3 linked regions of the Homo sapiens genome follow. The protein of the gene in region 1 interacts with the protein of each later gene in a biochemical or structural test. Each region holds a gene or a part of one and is shown in the gene's direction. Other genes may lie near its edges.

Region 1 (6,550 bases):
AACTACTCTCCCAAGGAAAATATTGCCACCATTTGTAGACCACGTAACCTTCAAGTATGTGCTACTTTTTTGTCCCTGTATCTAACTCAAATCAGGAACTGTATTTTTTTTAATGATTTGCTTTTGAAACTTGAAGTCTTGAAAACAGTGTGATGCAATTACTGCTGTTCTAGCCCCCAAAGAGTTTTCTGTGCAAAATCTTGAGAATCAATCAATAAAGAAAGATGGAAGGAAGGGAGAAATTGGAATGTTTTAACTGCAGCCCTCAGAACTTTAGTAACAGCACAACAAATTAAAAACAAAAACAACTCATGCCACAGTATGTCGTCTTCATGTGTCTTGCAATGAACTGTTTCAGTAGCCAATCCTCTTTCTTAGTATATGAAAGGACAGGGATTTTTGTTCTTGTTGTTCTCGTTGTTGTTTTAAGTTTACTGGGGAAAGTGCATTTGGCCAAATGAAATGGTAGTCAAGCCTATTGCAACAAAGTTAGGAAGTTTGTTGTTTGTTTATTATAAACAAAAAGCATGTGAAAGTGCACTTAAGATAGAGTTTTTATTAATTACTTACTTATTACCTAGATTTTAAATAGACAATCCAAAGTCTCCCCTTCGTGTTGCCATCATCTTGTTGAATCAGCCATTTTATCGAGGCACGTGATCAGTGTTGCAACATAATGAAAAAGATGGCTACTGTGCCTTGTGTTACTTAATCATACAGTAAGCTGACCTGGAAATGAATGAAACTATTACTCCTAAGAATTACATTGTATAGCCCCACAGATTAAATTTAATTAATTAATTCAAAACATGTTAAACGTTACTTTCATGTACTATGGAAAAGTACAAGTAGGTTTACATTACTGATTTCCAGAAGTAAGTAGTTTCCCCTTTCCTAGTCTTCTGTGTATGTGATGTTGTTAATTTCTTTTATTGCATTATAAAATAAAAGGATTATGTATTTTTAACTAAGGTGAGACATTGATATATCCTTTTGCTACAAGCTATAGCTAATGTGCTGAGCTTGTGCCTTGGTGATTGATTGATTGATTGACTGATTGTTTTAACTGATTACTGTAGATCAACCTGATGATTTGTTTGTTTGAAATTGGCAGGAAAAATGCAGCTTTCAAATCATTGGGGGGAGAAAAAGGATGTCTTTCAGGATTATTTTAATTAATTTTTTTCATAATTGAGACAGAACTGTTTGTTATGTACCATAATGCTAAATAAAACTGTGGCACTTTTCACCATAATTTAATTTAGTGGAAAAAGAAGACAATGCTTTCCATATTGTGATAAGGTAACATGGGGTTTTTCTGGGCCAGCCTTTAGAACACTGTTAGGGTACATACGCTACCTTGATGAAAGGGACCTTCGTGCAACTGTAGTCATCTTAAAGGCTTCTCATCCACTGTGCTTCTTAATGTGTAATTAAAGTGAGGAGAAATTAAATACTCTGAGGGCGTTTTATATAATAAATTCGTGAAGAAATGTGTGCTCTTCAGTTCTCAAGTTTTATTATTATGGTATTTATTAAAGTTCTACAATTGTAATAACGTATCCATATGACAAGTTTTAAAGTGGTAATTGAAATAGGTTATCAGATATAGAGTTGTTCACATCAAGTAGACTTTTAACAGAGTCAGAATGAACCTACCCTTAAAATTTTAGAGAAAAAAAATCGTCGGTTGCACAGAATAGCTGCTCTAGCTTGCTTAATTATGCCGGGCATGTTGTCACTCCTCTTACTTTTGCTGCCTTTTCATTACTATTTAATGGAATGTCCCTGAACAATAAGGAAGAGCAAAACATAGACATTTTGACTACAGTGGATACTTCCTCTACCCCAAATGTTATGTTATAAAAGTACTTTTTTTGCCCAGGTACTCTATTATATATTTTGGTTTTCTTTGAATTAGACCTCAATCTCCAGGAAGCTCTGGAGGGAAAAAAAGGAACCATAAACTAAAGTAACTGGTTTTCCAAATAAATGTAAACTTTTTTAACCTTTTATTATTATAGAACATTTCAAACATACATAAAACATGAAAACAGCCTGCAGCCAAACTTTTCTGGACCTTGGCAGCTCCAGCAAATGAGCTGGTCATCCTAACCCTGGTTTCCTGAGACAACTACTTTTGGGGATGCTTGCTTGTATAGGGAGATGATAGATAGATAGATACATATCAAAAAGAAACTTGAAAAAGGCTTCGAACAGAACTTGCCGATGTTACTCATCCCTCCTCGGTACAGACATTCTGTTAGAACAGATGGTTGTAATGGGGCAGCATCACTCCCTATTCCCATTAAAAACATGACCATTCTGAGATTTCAGGCCCCTTCGAGGAATTTTTCTCAAGAATTCCATACAAACTGTCAGAGGAAGAAATGTCGTCCCAAGACTAGTCCCTGTGTAGTCTTGATCCCTTTACCTGCTTACTGTAATTTTTTTTCTCTGACTTTCCGCCAGTGTCTAAGGGCCATCTGTACCCCTCCCACCCTTCCATGAGCCACTGTATAATCCAAAAACACACCTTCCATTTGCTCCCTCACTTGTCTCCTTTTACCTCAACAGTGTTAGTGTGTAAAGAATTGCCTGGGGAGGGTAGAGGGTTTTACAAGTACAGAGTCCCAAGTCTTTTCTCCCCTCCCCGTTAGTGGGTTGGCATTTATTAATAGGCACTGCAAGATTTTGATGCAGGTGTGGGGTAGATATCACTGTGAAAGGCTACTAATGCATGGTAGTTTCACCGAAAGTACAGTCTTCAAGGATCCTTATAATCTCCTCATTGCCAAAATCAGTAACATCTATAACCTTGACAACACCCTAGCTTGGGCTGTTGCTTCTCTGGCTACTTGTTTTTCCATCCCAGTTTACCCAGATTTTAGATGGATACTCCTCCAATTCTGCTTAAAGTCCTTACCTGTTCTTGCCCAGTTCCCTCTAGTCAACCTCAGTCACTCCCAAAGATTCTTCCCCAATCCCATATCTTTTGCTCAGACCTCTGTCTCTGGGATTTCTTTGTTACCTCATAGTCAGTAGTCCTAAAAACAAAATTCTTCATCTTGCATCTCTATCGACCGACCATTCTTTGTTTCTTTTTAAGAAATGTAACCTTCACCCCAATCATCAAAATCTCTCATTCCTCAATTGTCACAGGTTGTCACTTCTTTCCCCCTAAACCTCTCCCATCATTCCTTCCTTCTTTATACTGCCCTTACAGGTCCTGATCCTCTGACTCACCCGGACATTCTTAGCAGCTGCCTAATTTCACTCCCTGACTCTCATCTCCCTCTTCCAATCCTTTTCATTGTGCTAGAACACTATCTTGCTAATTTTAATATCCTCTGCATTCAGTGCCTCCACAGATTGCCCCCTCACTGACCTTTCCAATTTGGCCTTGTGTTACACACTTTCCTCGCTGCATTCCTACCCAGCATCTTCACTTGTCATATTTCTCAAATACTCTTCATGACCAGATATTTAAAGTACCTCATCCATGAAGACTTCATCAACCCCCAAAGTGCCTCCAATGCTTCCGTGGTAGCACAGCATAATGGGGTACATTTCTTAGTTGAACAGTGAGGAGTCACTGGGATTCTTACAGAGTGTCTTAGGGTCTCCTCTTGATACTCTTTCCACATTTCAGTTAAGGAATTTTCTTACATCTTTTTTTCTTCTAATAACCTTTGCCTGGAGTGTAAGTAAATTCATGATAGAGACTGTCATTTTTAAAAAAAAAAACAAACCATTTTGCCTTTCACATGTTATTACCTCCATCTTTCTGTTATCTTGTCAGTGTTGCCACCTAAATGATTGAAAATGACCGAGCATGCAGTAGAATGTAGTGAAGTTTCCTATTTCATCCATTTTTTGCATAAGTGCATTGGTATCTGTATATCCATCTGCCCAAGCACCAGTTGTTGAAAAGACTATTATTTCCCCATGAATGGTCCTGGTACCCTTGTCAAAGAACAGTTGACCATAAATATAAGACTTTCTGGATTCTCAGTCTTACTCCATTGCCCTATATGTCTGTCGTTATACCAGCACCGCACTGTCTTGATGGCTGTAGCTTGGTAGTAAGTTTAGATTTGGGATGTGCAAGTCCTCCATTTTTTTTTTTTTTTTCCCCAAAATCATTTTGTCTGTTTTGGGTCCCTTGCATTGCATATGAATTTTTATATGATCATTGTGTCAATTCCTGCAAAACAGCTGGGATCTTGATAGGGATTTAGTTGAATTGGTAGATAAATTTGAGAAATAACTGCTATTTTAATGGTGTTAGGTTTTCTGTTCCATGACTGTGGGATGTCTTTGCATTTGCTTAGGTCTTTATTTCAGTGATGTTTTAGAGATTTCAGTGTGCAAGTCTTGACGTCTTTAATTTTTTTCTAAGTATTTTACTGATGCCACTTTAATTATATGATTATTTTCTAATTTTTATTTTTGTATTCATCACTGGTGTTAGAAATAAAATTAATTTTTGTATATTGATTTTGTATATTGTAGCTTTTCTAAAATTCTTTTTTTGTCACTTAGTATTTTTTGCATATGAGATCATGCATCTGTGAACAGAAATACTTTTACTTCTTCCTTTCCAGTCTAGATTCCTATTATTTCATTTTCTTGCCTTAGTGTGCTGGCTAGCACCTCCAGTACAATATTGGATAGAAGTGACAAGAGCAGACATCTTTTTCTTGTTCCTGATTTTAAGGGGAAAGCATTCAGTCTTTCACCATTGAGTATGATGTTAGCTAGCTGTGGGTTTGCTTCAAGTTGAGGAAATTCTTTTATTAAACCTAGTTTACTGAGTGTTTTTTAATCAAAAAAAAAAAAAGGAGGGGCTGTGGGTTTTGTTAAATGCTTCTTCTGTATCAAGATTTTCATGTTGTTTTGTCCTTTATTAATATGTTGTATTAATGGACTTTTGTATATTGAATTAACTTTGCATTCCTGGGATAATCTCAGTTGTCCATGCTACATAAACCTTGTTCTATGCTGCTGGATTTGGTTTGCTAGTATTTTGTTTAGAATGTTTGCATCTATATTCATAAGGAATATTGGTCTGTAGTTTTCATATTATATATCTGTCCAGTTTGGGGATGAGAGTCATACTCCTGACAGAATGAATTGGGAGCTTTCCCTGTTCTTAAACCTACTGAGGTATTTTTTAAGTGAACTACTTGGAGACCTTCACCTGTGATCTTCAGATGCTGGGGGACACAGGGATGGTACCTGACTCTGAAAAGGCTCTCAGGGTAAGACGTGTCTGAACTGGCCTGTGGCAGTTAACTAAAGAGTACTCCTACCAATAATGGAGTCAAGATGTATGTTTCCCATAGGCCACGCTGGTCACTGAAAGAGATGGGCTATGAGCCATCTTGAAAACTACCCTGCACAAATGGACTGCCGGCCTGGAGCCAGGCACCCTGCAGCTGAGTGCCATATAATGTTGAAGCTGTTGAGGGAGGAGAGGTTGGAAGCTGCCAGCTTAGAGAATCTCAGCTGTGGTTTCCAGCAGGGTGTATTCCAGGAAAGAAAGTCATTCCCCACCCTGGCTCAAAGTAATAATTAACAGTGACTGGGTAAGGCAGGATCTTTTTTTCTAATTCCCTCCCCTCCAGAAAGGGCAGCAACAGCTCTTGAATGGGAAAGAAGGTGGAGGGAGGAAAAGAAAAACCAATTGCCCCAACACTGCTGTCTTTAAGCTTCCCACCCAAAGACCTCAGTAAGAGGCAGAATTATGTTTTCAATTAAGAGAGAGTTTGGCCTCTTGGTGTTTCAAAAGTGTAGGCTTTTTAATACCTAGAGAAACTGATGATTTGTTGATTACCAAAAAGGGACCAGAAAAGCTACATAGCCTGAGATTTCATCCCCAGAAAAACGAATCCAGAGAGCAGACTTGCAAAAAAAAAAAAAAACCGTTCTGTCTCTGCCTCTCCCACTACACATACACAGTGAGAAAGAGAGTCTTCATGATTTGGTAAATTAGACCCATGGAAAGACTCGGGACATTTAGGATGATGATATTTACGATGAGGAAGATTTCTATGGGAAACTTTTTTTTAACTTGTCTCTAATCCTATTCCAACTGAAGTTTGAATTTTTTTCCTTTCATTAACATTTACTGGGCAAATACCTATTGAATGTTTGCCATTTTGCAGTGTGCCATAGGTTTCAGGCTGATTCAGAGCTGCTTTGTTGAATCAAGAAGTCTGTTACAGGGAGACAATCTAGTTAGACCAGGCATAAGTACAAACCACTAAGGGTAAAAGAAGTATGTGAAAGTACAATGTGGGCAGAGAATTCAGATCCAAAAATACTGCAGATAGGTAGGTGATGAAGGTCAAGCCGAATCTTGACATACAGGATAGGTGTATGTGAGTGAGTTAGGTGGAAAGTCTAGTATGTCTGAGTGTCAGGCTGTAAGGGATTAAGATGAGATTGGGAAGGCAGGCAGGTCAGATAATGAGGGCCTTATAGACCATACCAAGGACTTTGGACTTTTATTTTGCAGACGTTAAGCAAAGACATAATCACTTTT
Region 2 (7,876 bases), on another chromosome or scaffold:
TCCCAAGGCTATAAATACCTCGGCTGGCGTCGGCCCTGGCCATGGAATGTCGGTCAGAACTGGGGCGAGTGGGGGTGGGCTGGTCTGCCTGGGCACCTCCCTCCGTTCCCCTGCGAGTGACCCCTGAGACTCTCTGTACCCCACTTTGGATGGAGTGGCAGCTGGATCCCACCTCTCTGTAGCAAGGGAGGCCCAGGCCACGGCCCAGCCAAGGCCCCAGAGGCACCAGAAAAAGGTCAGGCTCTGGGTTGGAACTGCACCCCACTTTCCACCAAGTATCTCCCCAGAAATCACCTGAACCCACCCCGGTGAGACGGGCGTCTCTGTATAACTCTCCCCTCTCTCCCTTTCAGTGAAAGAATTCTTAGCCAAAGCCAAAGAAGATTTTCTTAAAAAATGGGAAAGTCCCGCTCAGGTAAGGCTGCCGGGTGCAGAGCCCAGGGAGGGGTGAGCTGCTAACCCCCAGCCCCTGGCTGTGTCCCAGCAACACAGCTAGAATTTCAGAAACCCCATAGAAGGCTTCAGACCCTCCCCATTTGCTCCCTAGGTGCCCATGGGGGCTCCTGTGTGGAGACACCTGACTGCCCAATGCCAGGCACCCCCATCCCACCACCCCTCCCAACGGCCCGCCCCTGCCCCCAGCACAGCTGCCAGCAGCTTCCAGGCCCCAGGCCAGGGCCGGATCTGGCCCCTGCCACCCGCCTTAAGGAATGTGCCCTCTGCCATCTTGATTTTCCGCCCCCTGTCCTCACCCCGCTGACCCCACGTGCTCCCCGGGGCCCCCTCTGCCGGTGGCAGAGGGGATGCCCCAGACCTTAGCCAAGCAGGCCGCGGGGAGGGCGTGCCCTGAGCCTACCGACCCCTCTGCCCACAGAACACAGCCCACTTGGATCAGTTTGAACGAATCAAGACCCTCGGCACGGGCTCCTTCGGGCGGGTGATGCTGGTGAAACACAAGGAGACCGGGAACCACTATGCCATGAAGATCCTCGACAAACAGAAGGTGAGGTGGCCTGTCCTCGCTCAGGGCCTGCCTGTCAGGCCTTTGCCTGGACTGTGCCCACTCCTTAGAGTGCCCTATCCACCCGTTCACTCACTTGCTTTTTTTTGATTCAGAGTCTCGCTCTGTCGCTCAGGCTGGAGTACAGTGGCGTGATCTCGGCTCACTGCAACCTCCACCTCCCTAGTTCAAGCGATTCTCCTGCCTCAGCCTCCCGAGTAGCTGGGATTACAGGCGCCTGCCACCACACCCAGCTAATTTTTGTATTTTTAGTAGAGATGGGTTTTCGCCATGTTGGCCAGGATGGTTTCGAATTCCTGACCTCAGGTGATACACCTGCCTCAGCCTCCCAAAGTGCTGGGATTACAGGCGTGAGCCACCGCGCCTGGCCGCTTGGTTTTTTTGTGGGGGACAGGATCCTGCTCTGTTGCCCAAGCAGGAAAGTGCAGTGACGTGATCATAGCTCACTGTAGCCTCAAACTCCTGAGCTCAAGAGATCCTCCTGAGTAGCTGGGACTACAAGCGCACACTACCATGCCTGGCTAATTTTTTTTTGTTGTTTGTTTGTTTTTTGTTTTAGACAGGGGGTCTTGCTGTGTTGCCCAGGCTGGTCTTGAACTCCTGGCCTCAAGTGATCTCCTACTTCAGCCTCCCAAAGCACAGGGATTACAGGCATGAGCCACCATGCCAGGCTCACCCACTATTCCCCGAGCCCCCATAATGTGCCAGCCCCAGGGGTCAGAAGGGCCCTGTGCCGCCTTCCCAAAGCTCCCTCTCCAGGCCGGCCATGGATTCAAAGCCAGGCACTGTGACACAGGGTCAGACACCAGCCCAACAGGAGGAGAACAAGAGCACTCTTGGGGGAAGTGGTGTTTATGTGCACTTTCTTCCCGTAAATATTTTTGTGATCGGACTTTATACCAGGCACTGCTATAAAGCAGCAATGTAACTAGCAGAAATGTAACCTGAGCCACAGAAGCAATTTTAAATTTTCTGTTTGCTCCATCATAAACAGTAAAAACAGCCAAGCACGGTGGCGCACGCCTGTAGTCCCAGCTACTAGACAGGCTGAGGTGGGAGGATCACTTGAACCCAGGAGTTCAACTCCAGCCTCGACAACACAGCCAGACCCCATCTCTAAAAAAACACCCAAAGTTTGTAATTAAAAGAGAAAATGAAAGAAACAGGTGTCATTCATGAAATTCATTTTAATGACATGTTTGGGGCTTTTTTTTATGTTTTTTTTTTTTTGAGACAGAGTCTCACTCTTGTCGCCCAGGCTGGACTGCAGTGGCGTGATCTCAGCTCACTGCAACCTCCACCTCCCAGGTTCAAGTGATTCTCCTGCCTCAGCTTCCCAAGTAGCTGGGATTATGGGTGCCACCACCACGCCCAGCTAACTTTTGTATTTTTAGTAGACTTGGGGTTTCACCATGTTGGTCAGGTTGGTCTCGAACTCCTGACCTCAGGTAATCCGCCCGCCTCAGCCTTCCAAAGTGCTGGGATTACAGATGTGAGCCACCACACCTGGCCTAATGATATGTTTTAATTAAGCCAGTATATCTACAGTATTACCCTTTCCATATATTATCAATGTGAAAATATCATTAATGAAACATTTTACATTCCTTTTGTTTTTTTCCCAGTCCTCCATGACTTCGGAAATATTTCCTTTTTTTCTGTACTGAAGTATCTTTAAAATCCAGTGTCTATTGTATGCTTACAACAGTTCTCAACTCTGATGGTAAATTTTTCCTGGAAAGATAAGAAAAAGCAGGGAAGTTGAAAAAGCAGATTCACATGCCCAAGTTGTTCCAACCATGCCTGAAAGTCACCAGTACCTGCATCAAGAGTTTAATTTTTGTTTTGTTTTGTTTTGTTTTGTTTTTGAGATGGAGTTTCGCTCTTGTTGCCCAGGCTGGAGTGCAATGGCATGATCTCAGCTCACTACAACCTCTGCCTCCGGGTTTCAAGCGATTCTTGTGCTCCAGCCTCCTGAGTAGCTGGAATTACAGGCGCCGGCTACCACGCCCAGCTAATTTTTTAATTTTTTTTTTTTTTTTTTTTGAGATGGAGTCTCGCTCTGTCGCTCAGGCTGGAGTGCAGTGGCACGATCTTGGCTCACTGCAACCTCTGCCTCCCGGGTTCACGCCATTCTTCTGCCTCAGCCTCCTGAGTAGCTGGGACTACAGGCGCCCACCACCACGCCTGGCTAATTTTTTGTATTTTTAGTAGAGATGGGGTTTCACCGTGTTAGCCAGGATGGTCTCCATCTCCTGACCTTGTAATCCACCGGCCTCGGCCTCCCAAAGTGCTGGGATTACAGGCGTGAGCCACCACACCTGGCCAGTTTTTAAATATTTTTAGTAGAGACAGGGTTTCACCATTTTGGCCTGGCTGGTTGTTGTTTTTTTTTTTTTTTTTTTGAGACGGAGTCTCGCTCTGCCACCCAGGCTGGACTGCAGTGGTGTGATCTCAGCTCACTGCCAGCTCCACCTCCCGGGTTCATGCCATTCTCCTGCCTCAGCCTCCCGAGTAGCAGGGACTACAGGCGCCCGCCACCACACCCGGCTAATTTTTTGTGTTTTTAGTAGAGACGGGGTTTCACCATGTTAGCCAGGATGGTCTCGATCTCCTGACCTCGTGATCCACCTGCCTCGGCCTCTCAAAGTGCTGGGATTACAGGCGTGAGCCACCGTACCCGGCCTGGTTGTTTTGTTTTTGAGACAGGGTCTTGCTCTGTTGCCCAGGCTGAAGTGCAGTTGGGCTCAAATGATCCTCCCACCTCAGCCTCTGGAGCTGCTGGGACCATAGTCGTGCCATGCCCAGCTAATTGCTTTTGTTGTCCTTGTTGTTGTTTGTAGAGATGGGGTCTCGCTACATTGCCCAGGCTAGTCTCAAACTCCTGGGCTCAAGCGATTTACCTGCCTGGGCCTCCCAAAGTGCTGGGATTACGGGCGTGAGCCACCATGCCCAGCTGGTGTCAGTTTTTTAATTTATATTTTAGATACTTAAAATTTTTGAATTTGGCTCCCCATCCGACCAGCCATATTTCAAGGGCCCAGCATCCCCCTGTGGCTAATGGGGACTGAACTGGGTAGGGCAGGTATAGACTCTGAGGACACAGCTATGTGAGCAAAGCAGTTGACAGCTGACTGAGGGACCAGGCTGGCCACATGTTACACACCAGCCTGACATCAGCCAGCTGTGTGACCTTGGACAAGTCACCTCCCCTCTGTGTCTGGTCTTCCAAACTGGCGTACTCCCAGCATGGGCCTCTAGGGCTTCTATCCTGATTCAGTGAGAGACTGGGTGCCAGGTGCCTGCTCATGGCATCTGCTATTAGGGGACAGCTGATGGCTGAGGAGCTGTTAGCCTGAGGTTCAGGTTGCTGTGTGGAGTGTTCTAGACAAGGGTAAGGCAGGTCCTAAACCCCCCACCTCTTGGGCTTCTCCTGCCTGTCTTTTCAATTTCAGTTCAGCTGCCCCTTCCTCCAGAAAGCGCTGTCTGATTCCCCCTTCCCCAGACCACGCCAGGTACTTTACATGGGCTTCTTGGGGGCTGCTTCTCCACAACCCCAAGATACCCTCCACCACGGCTCTGACCTCTGTGGGGGTAACCCATGTATTCTTTGCCCTGGACTTAGTGCCGTGCAAGGACAAGCAGCCCCTAGCCTCCCTGATGCTGTGTCCTCAGCATCAGCTAAGGGCCCGACAGGCCACAGGCACACAAATGATTCTGGCTGAAGGAACCGGCCTGGCTCCGGCATCCCTAGTTCCAGGCATTAGGGGAAATGAGGCCCCTCTCACCTCCCCCTCCTTTCTGCCCTCCCCTCCTTCCCTTCCCAGGTGGTGAAACTGAAACAGATCGAACACACCCTGAATGAAAAGCGCATCCTGCAAGCTGTCAACTTTCCGTTCCTCGTCAAACTCGAGTTCTCCTTCAAGGTGGGGTCCCAGTGGCCAAGGGCGGGGGGTCACTGCATTGGGTCCCAGCCTTCTGGCCCCCAGGGCTGGGGTCGGAGCTGAGGACAATCAGTGGCTGCTCTCTTTTGTGGAAGAACAAGATCCCTGGAGGAGGGAGATCAGGGGACAGGAGTCAGGCTGGGACTCTGGTAGACCCAAGTTCAGTTCCTGGTCCAGCCAGTTTGTAGTTCGATACCCTTGGTGAGTCACCCAACCTCAGTAACATCCCTCAAAAGCAGCACCTGGTTTATGGTAAGAGCCTGACCCAGGAGCACAAACTCTGCCCCAGGCAGCCGGGGTTCATTTCCCAGTTCAGTACTTCTTGATGTGTGGCCCCGGGCAAGAGACTTATCTCCCCAAGCCTCAGCTTTCTCATGGTAAAATGGGGATCATACCAGTTCCAGCCTGGTGGGGTTGTCATGACAGTTCCAGGCACGTCTTGAGCGCCCTTTGGGAGCCGTTTTGGGTGCCATCCAAAGCTGTGGTCATGAGAAACAGGAAAGGCCACTCAGGGCCAGCTTCATGGACGTTTGACCCAGAGAAGCACAAGGGCCTGTTCTCCGAGGGACCCCACACCTGGTTTAACGCTTTGCTGCTGCTGCTGTCTTGAGATCCGTAATAATTTTTTTTTGTTGAGACAGAGTCTCACTCTGTTGCTCAGGCTGGAGAGCAGTGGCGCAATCTTGGCTCACTACAACCTCTGCCTCCTGGGTTCAAGCAATTCTCCTGCCTCAGCCTCCTGAGTAGCGGGGATTACAGGTGCCCACCACCATGCCCAGCTTATGTTTGTATTTTTAGTAGAGACAGGATTTTGCCATGTTGCTCAGGCTGGTCTTGAACTCCTGACCTCAAGTGATCTGCCTGCCTTGGCCTCCCAAAGTGCTGGGATTACAGGCATGAGCCACTGTGCCAAGCCTAATTTTTATTTTTTTTATTGAGACAGAGTTTGGCTGTTGTTGCCCAGGCTGGAGTGCAATGATGCGATCTCAGCTCACCACAACCTCTGACTCCTGGGTTCAAGCAATTCTTCTGCCTCAGCCTCCCGAGTAGCTGGGATTACAGGCATGTGCCATCACATCTGGCTAATTTTGTATTTTTTAGTAGAGACAGGGTTTCCCCATGTTGGTCAGGCTGGTCTTGAACTCCTGACCTCAGGTGATCTGCCTGCCTCGACCTCCCAAAGTGCTGGGATTGCAGGTGTGAGCCGTGCCCGGCCATTTTGTTTTGTTTTGTTTAAGATAAGGTCTTACCCTGTTGCCCAGGCTGGAGTGCAGTGGCGCAATTACAGCTCACAACCTTTGCCTCCCAGGCTCAAGCAATCCTCCCACCTCAGTCTCCTGAGTATGAGACTACAGGTGCACGCCATGATGCCCAGCTAATTTTTGTATTTTTGCAGAGACGGGGTCTCACTATGTTGCCCAGGCTGGTCTCAAACTCCTAGGCTCAAGTGATCCACCCACCTTGGCCTCCCAAAGTACTGGGATTATACAGGCATGAGCCACCACACCCGACCCTCTGTAATAATTTTTTAACCAGGGGCCATCTTTTTTATTCTGGGCCCCACTAATTCTGCAGCCTATCATGATCCCATTTTACAGATGACAAAACTGTGGCCTCAGAGCCTTACTCAAGCTCCCAGAGCAAGGTACTACAGAGTTCTCTCTCCAGCCAAGGCAGGCTAACCAGGTCCTGACATACCTCTGAGCCAGCCCTCACTTTCACCCATTAACAGCAGGATAAGGGTCGCCCCTGTAGAACATGATTCCTACAGGGAGCCAGGATCGCTGTTGTCATTTAATGTTTGAACACCAGCCGGGGAGGCCCCCAAGGCCTTCAGATCGGGTCCAAGTCTCAGGGGTGGGCCCTTGACCAGCCACTGCTTCCCACAGGACAACTCAAACTTATACATGGTCATGGAGTACGTGCCCGGCGGGGAGATGTTCTCACACCTACGGCGGATCGGAAGGTTCAGGTAAGCGGGCCACCCCCCATCACATCAGGCTGTCAGGGTGTCCACAGGTGGCAGTGCACGACCAAGCCCCCTGGGAATGCAGAGGAGTCCAGCATACTTCAACATGCAGGTGGTCTCCCAGACCCTGTGGGTTTCTGTTTCCCCTCTGCTGAGGAATATGTGATATTTCAACCACCACAAAACAAAACAGAGCAAACAGGGCAACTTAGGTGTCCAAACTGAAGTTGCTGCCAGGCACGGTGGTTCTCACCAGTAATCCCAGCACTTTGGGAGGCCAAGGTGGGCAGATCACCTGAGGTCAGGAGTTTGAGACCAGCCTGGCCAACATGGCAAAACCCTGTCTCCACTAAAAATACAAAACTGAGCTGGGCATGGTGGTGGGCACCTGTAATCCCAGCTACTTGGGAGGCTGAGGCAGGAGAATCACTTGAACCCAGGAGACAGAGGTTGCAGTGAGCCAAGATCACACCACTGTACTCCAGCCTGGGTGAGAGAGTGACATGCCGTCTCAAAAAAAAAAATTGAAGTTGTTGATTTTGTGCATTTTTTGAGCCCCAAAAGGTGGCATGCATCTGTAGTCCCACTAGTCCTGAGGCTGAGGTGAGAAGATCATTTGAGCTCAAGAATTTGAGACCAGCCTGGGCTGCATAGTGAGGTTTTGTCTCTTTTAAAAAAAAAAAATTGGCTGGGCGCAGTGGCTCGTGCCTGTAATCCTAGAACTTTGGGAGGCCGAGGCGGGCGGATCACGAGGTCAGGAGATCAAGACCATCCTGGTTAACATGGTGAAACCCCGTCTCTACTAAAAAAATACAAAAAAATTAGCCGGGTGTGATGGCGGGCGCCTATAGTCCCAGCTACTCGGGAGGCTGAGGCAGAATGGCGTGAACCCGGGAGGCGGAGTTTGCAGTGAGCCGAGATCGCGCCACTGCACTTCCAGCC
Region 3 (7,876 bases), on another chromosome or scaffold:
CTTTCAGTCAATATATGATGTTATAGCTGTGAGGATGTTTTTGCTTTTTGTGATGTTAAAATTATAAATTCTGTGAACGCTTTTATTTTACTCTGCTGTAACCAAAGTGAGATTTTTTTTTTTTTTTTTTTTTTGAGATGGAGTCTCTGTCACCCCCCAGGCTGGAGTGCAATGGCATGGTGTCGGCTCACTGCAACCTCCCCTTCCCGGGTTCAAGGATTCTCCCACCCCAGCTTCCCTAGTAGCTGAGACTACAGGCGCATGCCACACCACACCCGGCTAATTTTCCTATTTGTAGTAGAGACAGGGTTTCACCATGTTGGCCAGGCTGGTCTCGAACTCCTGATCTTGTGATCCGCCTGCCTCGGCTTCCCAAAGTGCTAGGATTACAGGTGTGAACCACCGGGCACCCGGCCCAGTACGAATTGTTAATAGATAAAATTAAAGTCTTTCTGAAGTAGCCTTTTCTGATGGTAGTTTATTTTTAAATTCTTGATCATTGTTTTATGTTGAAGCAGAAAATGTGATAAAAATTGACGCTTATCACCACACCAGAGAACCTGTAGACAAGTTGGGCTTTGTATATGCAAGGGAAACAGATACAGGAAAATGTGGAAGAAAAAGAAAAGCAGTTTTCAAATGACCTATTTGTAAAATCTACTTGAAGCACAAAAGATATGCCATTTTATAATTTAAAAATTTTAAAGGGTTTGATTGAAACTGTTTGTTACAAATGAAAATTTGTCATTAAAAATACTTAATGACATTAAAATTCCACTGAAAGTGTCCAGTTAGAAATTGGGAAATATTTAGTCTTTAAAATTTGTACCTAATTTTGGAGGGTCAGAGGGTAAGCCGAAGACCTCCAGAGGATAATATTGAAGGCTTATGCTCTGTATCAGACAAATTCCGTTTTCTATAAGTTAAAATTTCTTTCAATAAGTATTTCTATGTAATGTAGATTCCTTAACACATTATACCAAAATTCTGTTTATATGAACATGCTGTAATAAGTGATTAGATGAAATTACGTTAAACTTCTTGGGTAAATTGTAAGGTGGTAATTTATTTTCCTATTTTTCCATTGGTTTCTGGTCGTGAGTACCAACAGGCAGAAACAGGTTGCCTTAATTTTTTACAGTGCTATATACATTTGGTATTTAATAATGTTACTTGTTCAAGGTTACTAATAAAGCTTAAGCTTTTTTCCAATTTAGAGTGAAATTTATTATTCACGGAGCACTCAGAATCAACTGAGTAACATAAATTTTTACTTACAGGTTGCTAGAATAGGTAGTGAGAATATAAACTGCACTGTGTACATTCCAAGGTGCTGTCATTAATAGAGATTTTTGTAATACAGGTTTTGAGTATCCCTTATGGGAAATGCTTGGGACCAGAAGTGTTTGGGACTTTGGATTTTCTTTTTTTTTGGATTTTGGAATATTTGTATATACATAATGAGATATCTTGGGGATGGCACCTAAATATAAACATGAAATTCAGTTATATTTCATGTACATTTTATGCACAGAGCCTAAAGGTAATTTTATACAATATTTTAAATAATTTTGCGAGTGAAACAAACTGTATACATTGAACCATCAGAAAGCAAAGGTGTTACATATGGGATTTTTCCACATGTGATGTCATGGTGTTAAAAAATTTCAGATTTTGGAGCATTTCAGATTTCATATTTTTGGATTGGGGATGCTCAACCTGTATGTAAGTAAATAGATACAAAAGCATAAATGTGTAGTGGCACAAAGTCCCTGTGTATGAGATTTTTTTTTTTTGGTTAATTGTTCATCATCAGCTATTGAAAAGAGCTTTGAGGATTTCCAAGTATCCACGAGCAAGATAACATCTAGAAGAATGGAGAGTTATATATGTGAGACATTAGTGCAGATAATGGAGGGGAGTTTCTGTGTAACTTCTAATTAGCTTATTCTGGGATTTCATAGACTGTTAGGTTATGTGTAAAATTTTGAAGTACATTTACTTGAAATGTTCAGGCAGTATATACTCTGGTTTTAGAAAGTGCCTTCTGTCAGTGCAAACTTCTGGGAAAATATTAATATACTTAGACATAATTTAAACGTATTGAGTCAAATTGAGCCTTTCTTTGATAAGGCAACTTGCCTTAGGGTCATCATCACACACATGATTTAACGTTATACTGTATAGTGTGGATCTAGAACTATACTGTCCACTTTGATACCATCACCCACATGTGGTTAAGTACTTAAAAAGTGAGATGTGTTAAGTGTAAAATTTATACCAGATTTTGAAAATTTGGTATGAACAAAATAAATATCTTAATACTTTTGATATATTATGTATTGAAATAGTATTTTGCAGATCGTGAGTTAAGTAAAATATCAAAATTAATTTGACCTTTTATTAAAAACTTTTTTTTCAGTATGGCTGCTTAAAATTTTTAAATTACTTGTGGCTTATATATATTTCTGCTGGACAACATCTTATCCAGAAGGTTGGATTGAATCAGTATAGCAAGATATCTGAGAAAAAAAATGTCTGTGAGATCATTGTTTTCTTATTTGCTTTGTTCTAATACTGGACAGCTGAAAAACTCGTTATTTAATGATTCTGATTAACAGAGATTGCTTAGCTTTTTTTAAGAAAGAGCGTAATTGAAGTGTAATTTGCCTACCATACAGTTCACCATTTTAAAGTCTGTAATTGATGTAATACATTCACAGGGTCGTGTAGTCAATTTTAGAACGTTTAGAACCCTCAAAAAGAAACGCTGTACCCTTTAGCAGTTGCCCTTCGTTTCTCCCTGGGCCCCCCAGCCTTAGGCAACTACTGATCTATTTTTTGTCTATAGATTTGCTTGTTCTGGGCGTTTGTTGTAAGTGGAATCATGTGGTCTTTTGTGATTGGCTTTCACTTAGCATAGTGTTTTCAAGGTTCATCCCTGTTGAAGCATGTGCCGGTACTTACTTCCTTTTTATTGCCGAATAACATTCCATTGTGTTGCCAACAGCATTCCACATTTTATTTTTCTATCACGTGGTGGACATTGGGTTGTTTCTACTTTCTGGCTATTGTGACTAATGCCTCTGAACACTCATGTATAAGTTTTTGTGGGGACATAACGTTTTCATTTTTCTTGGGTGTAGATCTTGGAGTGGAAATTGCTGGGTCAAAGCTCTATGTTGAGCTTTATGAGGAGCTGCCAAATTATTTTCTAAGGTGTCTGTACCATTTTACATTTCCACTAGCAATGCATGAGGATTCCGATAACCACATTCTCGGTAATACTTATTACTGTCTTTGTGATTATAGCCATCTTACTGGCTGTGAAATGGTATCTTACTGTGATTATTTTGCTTTTTATTTTCATTATTATTTTTGCTGGGGGCACTCTGAGGAAAACTGGACAGCCTGCTAGACAAATTTGCTTTTTGTTATCTGAGCAGTAGTTCTCACTGTGGTTTGGGGAGTCCCCATACCCTGTTAAGGGTACCATGAGATGAAACTATTTTCATAGTAATTCTGAGATGTTATTTTTATTTTTCAGTCTAATTTTCTCAAAACTGGGCAGTGCACTTGGCTAGAGTCTTTAAGGTGTGGGATATGACAACAGATGTGAAAATCCAGCTGTCTTCTATTACAAGACTAAAGTGATTTCCAAAAATTTAAAATAATGCCACTCTTATCACTGAGAAAATAGTTATTTTTCATAAGGATGTTATTTTTATTAATATATAATGTATTATTTTTAAATGAATTTATTTTTAAAGGTTATTCAGTTTTAATTTGTAATATTATAAATATCAACAGCTATAACCTAAACAAGCAAAACTCTTTGGAGTTCTGAAGTTGTAAAATGGTGTCCTGAGAGCAAAAATTTCTGTGGTGGCGTATTTTATAGATTACGTACTTAAAATATCGGGTAGTGGCTCCAATAAGTTGCCATTACCTCTTGCCTAGAAACTGCAGTAGCCTACTGGTCAGTTGCCTGACTTCTATAACTCTCCCACCAGCCATTCCAAGAGTGATCTCTGAAAAACGTTAATCAGAGCATGCCACCCTCTGTGTAAAGCTAATGGCTCCCTGTTGGTCTTAGAATATATAATGGAGTAGCGAGGCCCTGTGTAATACGGTTCCATGCCCTCTCCATTTTTTGCAGATGCCTTCTTTCTTTGCTTGCTTGGCTGACTACATTGACCTTCTAGTTCCCTGACCTGTTAATACTTTTTTTCCTGCCTGAGGACTTCTGTACAGTTTGTTCTTGCTACCTAGAATGCAAGAACACTCTTTGCCCATTCCTTTTCCATCTTTAAATCTTAATGCAAAGGTCAGTTTCTCCAGGTAGTATCTATTTCTGATTGTCCAGACTGGATTGGGATCCCCTGTTGGATTTCTCACAGTAGCCTGTTTTTGATAAGAATTCATCACAACTAAAAATTGTATATTTATGTGATTCCTTCTCTTTAGAGAGGGGCTGTGATTGTTCACCATTGTGTTACCAGAGCCTAGGGCTCAATAAATTATTTACAGATGAATCTAGTCCATTATGTACAATAATACATATTCAGTAATAACTACTTATTGTTGAACCTTTACTGAGTGTAGTATGTACATAATCTGGTAGCTCCCAGTCCTTTTGTGGAAGCTTCCTCTTAAGCTGTTCCCCCCAGGTCACCACTCTCCAGGCACAACTCTTGACTGCTTCATGATGTTCACTCTTGCTTCTCTGCCTGGAACATTACTCTTCTAGAACCACCTTTCTTAGCTGGAGATTCTCATCTGAACCACAGAGCACAGAAAGTGATATGAATAGCTATCCATTTCTTTTCAAAGATGGTTCATAATGAATATAATTTTAGATGTATAGGAGAGAAGTTAATTCATTACATAGTGAGTGGTTTGTTGGTAAATGCTGGTTTATCAACCCGTTCTTCAGGAAAAACACTGATTTGTAGTGTTTGCTGGATTTCCATGATGTAAATATTCTCACTGTGGCAGATTTCAAGATACCGTTATTAAACTGGCTCACAAAATTTATGAAAATTTAAGAGCCATTGCTTATAATGGGTGCCTTAGGGCAGAGGCCAGCAAACTGGTAGTCGAAATCTATTGTGCCCATTTGCTTATGTGTTATCTATAGCTCCTTTCAGAATAGACCATGTGGCTGGTAGAGCCAAAAATATTTACTGTCTAGCCCGTAACAGAAAGTTTGCTTACCCTGGTATTAGGGCTTCCTGTTAATATATCTTGTTCATCAAAACACTTCTCATTGGAAATTTTTACCATGACTTATTTTTTATAGAAATACAATGTGAGCTGGGCTCAGTGGTTCATGCTTGTAATCCCAACACTTTGCGGGGCCAAGGTGGCAGGATTGCTTGAGCACCATGGCTCAGTGATCATGGCTCACTGCAGCCCCCACCTCCTGGAGTTCGAGACCAGCCTGTCTACAAAAAAATAAAAATTTAGCTAGGTGTGGTGGCACACACCTGTAGTCCCAGCTAGTCCAGCAAGGTTGAGCCCAGGAGTTTGGAGGTTACACTGAGCTATGATTGCACCGCAGCATTCCAGCTGTGGTGACAGAATGAGACTTGGTCTCTTAAAAACAAAAAACAGTATGAGCCACATATGTAATTTTCCTATTAGCCACTTTAATCAAAAGGAAGGACTGAAGTCAATTTTTCAATAGTGGTGACTCACACATAACAAAATTTATCATGTTAACCATTTTTAAGGGTTCACTTCAGTGACATTAAGTACATTCACATTGTTGTACAATTGTTACCACCATCCGTTTCCAGAACTCATCTTGCAAAACTGAAACCCTGGACCGTTTAAACAGTAACTCCCCATTTTCCCCATTCCCCCACCTCTAGCAACCACCATTCTTCTTTCTGTCTCTGAATTTGACTACTCTAGGTATTTCATATAAGTGGAATAAGACAGTGTTTGGCCTTTTGTGATTAACTTATTTCCCTTAGTATAACGTCCACAAGGTTCATTTATGTTGTAGCATGTGTCAGAATTTACTTTTTTTTTTTTTTTTGAGACAGGTCTCACTTTGTCACCCAGGCTGGAGTGCAGTGGCACAATCATGGCTTGCTGCAGCCTCCACCTCCTGAAGTTCAAGTGATCCTCCTGCCTTAGCCCCCCAAGTAGCTGGGACTGCAAGCTCACATCACCATGCTTGGCTACTTTGTATTTTTTTGTAGAGACAGGGTTTCACCATGTTGCCCAGGTTGGTCTCAAACTCCTGAGCTCAAGCGATCTGCCCCCTTGGTCTCCCAAAATGCTAGGATTATACAAGTGTGAGCCACCGCACCCAGCCAGAATTTACTGTGTATGACTGAATAATATTCCATTATATGTATGTACCACATTTTAAAAATCCATTGATCTGTTGCTGGTCGCTTGGGTTGCTTCCACCTTTTGGCTATTGTAATTTTAATATGCTTTATTTAACCCAGTATGTCTAAAATATTTTAAGGTGCAATTGATATAAAGACTATAAAATATCTTGCATTTTGAAATACTAAGTCTTTGAAATATATTTTGTAATTTACACTTAAGCATACCTCAGTTTGAAGTAGCCACATTTCAGGTGCTTAATAGCCATATGTAGCTAGTGACTGCTGAATTAGCACAGCTAATAAAGCTTTCAGGATGTGCTTCCACCTGCCTTTTCTCCTGTTTTCATTGCATTTCAGCCAGTTTGTATTGTCTCTTCCCCTACCCTCAAATATCACTGGCTCTTTCTTCCCCTTTTTGAACCTTTGCAAATGCTGTTAATGACAATGACATAATGGCCAATATTTATTGCAGGCATGATTTATAAGGCATGATGCATTATATTTTTTTAAAATGTCACATAACTTTATGATGAAAGCACTATTATTATCCTTTTTTTAAAAAATGAAGATGCTGGCCAGGCATGGTGGCTCATGCTGCTAATCCCGGCACTCTGGGAGGCCGAGGCGGGTGGATCACATGAGGTCAGGAGTTTGAGACCAGCCTGACCAACATGGAGAAACCCCGTCTCTACTAAAGATACAAGATTTGCCAGGTGTGGTGGTGCATGCCTGTAATCCCCAGCTACTCGGAAGGCTGAGGCGGGAGAATCGCTTGAACCTGGGAGGTGGAGGTTGCAGTGAGCTGAATCGTGCCATCGCACTCCAGCCTGTGGGATAAGAGTGAGACTTCGTCTCAAAAAAAAAAAAAAAAAAAAGGGTACAAAAAATAGCCGCGTGTGGTGGTGCATGCCTGTAGTCCCAGCTACTTGGGAAGCTGAGGTGGAAGAATCTCTTGAATCTGCGAGGCAGAGGTTGCAGTGAGCTGAGATCTTGCCACTGCAGTCCAGCCTGGGCGACAGAGGGAAACTGTCTTTTTTTTTTTTTTTTTTTTTTTTTTGAGACAGTGTCTTGCACTGTTGCCCCGGCTGGAGTGCAGTGGTGCAATCTCAGCTCACTGCAACCTCCGCCCCCTGGGTTCACACAATTCTCTTGCCTCAGCCTCCTGAGTAGCTGGGATTACAGGTGCACACCACCACACCCAGCTAATTTTTTGTATTTTTAGTAGAGACGGGGTTTCATTATGTTGGCCAGACTGGTCTTGGACTCCTGACCTCATGATTCGCCTGCCTTTGCCTCCCAAAGTGCTGGAATTACAGGCGTGAGCCACCGCGCCTGGCCTATGTCTTAAAAAAAAAAAAAAAAACCAGAAGATACTGAGACTCATATTAATAATGTGATCAAATTCATACACATATTAAGTAGTAGACTGTAGATTCAAACCCAGTACAAACTTGGGAGGCCTCACCGATCCACTGCCCCAAACTGCCTTGACTTTCCTTTGACTGGCTTTTCAGTCTTTAAAGTTC

The links.
Region 2: the proteins of UBE3A (region 1) and PRKACA form a complex in vitro, tested with the Homo sapiens proteins (2 studies listed by BioGRID, with this or other methods).
Region 3: the proteins of UBE3A (region 1) and UBQLN1 form a complex in vitro, tested with the Homo sapiens proteins (2 studies listed by BioGRID, with this or other methods).

What each region holds. Positions count from the first base shown.
Region 1 is NC_000015.10:25,332,190-25,338,739, reverse strand, and holds the end of UBE3A (ubiquitin-protein ligase E3A), read left to right. Parts: 3' UTR 1-5,012; downstream 5,013-6,550. UniProt on the Homo sapiens protein: E3 ubiquitin-protein ligase which accepts ubiquitin from an E2 ubiquitin-conjugating enzyme in the form of a thioester and transfers it to its substrates.
Region 2 is NC_000019.10:14,099,887-14,107,762, reverse strand, and holds part of PRKACA (cAMP-dependent protein kinase catalytic subunit alpha), read left to right. Parts: coding exon of another isoform or gene 1-52; intron 53-353; coding exon 354-415; intron 416-874; coding exon 875-1,003; intron 1,004-4,848; coding exon 4,849-4,947; intron 4,948-6,854; coding exon 6,855-6,937; intron 6,938-7,876.
Region 3 is NC_000009.12:83,697,083-83,704,958, reverse strand, and holds part of UBQLN1 (ubiquilin-1), read left to right. Parts: intron 1-7,876. UniProt on the Homo sapiens protein: Plays an important role in the regulation of different protein degradation mechanisms and pathways including ubiquitin-proteasome system (UPS), autophagy and endoplasmic reticulum-associated protein degradation (ERAD) pathway.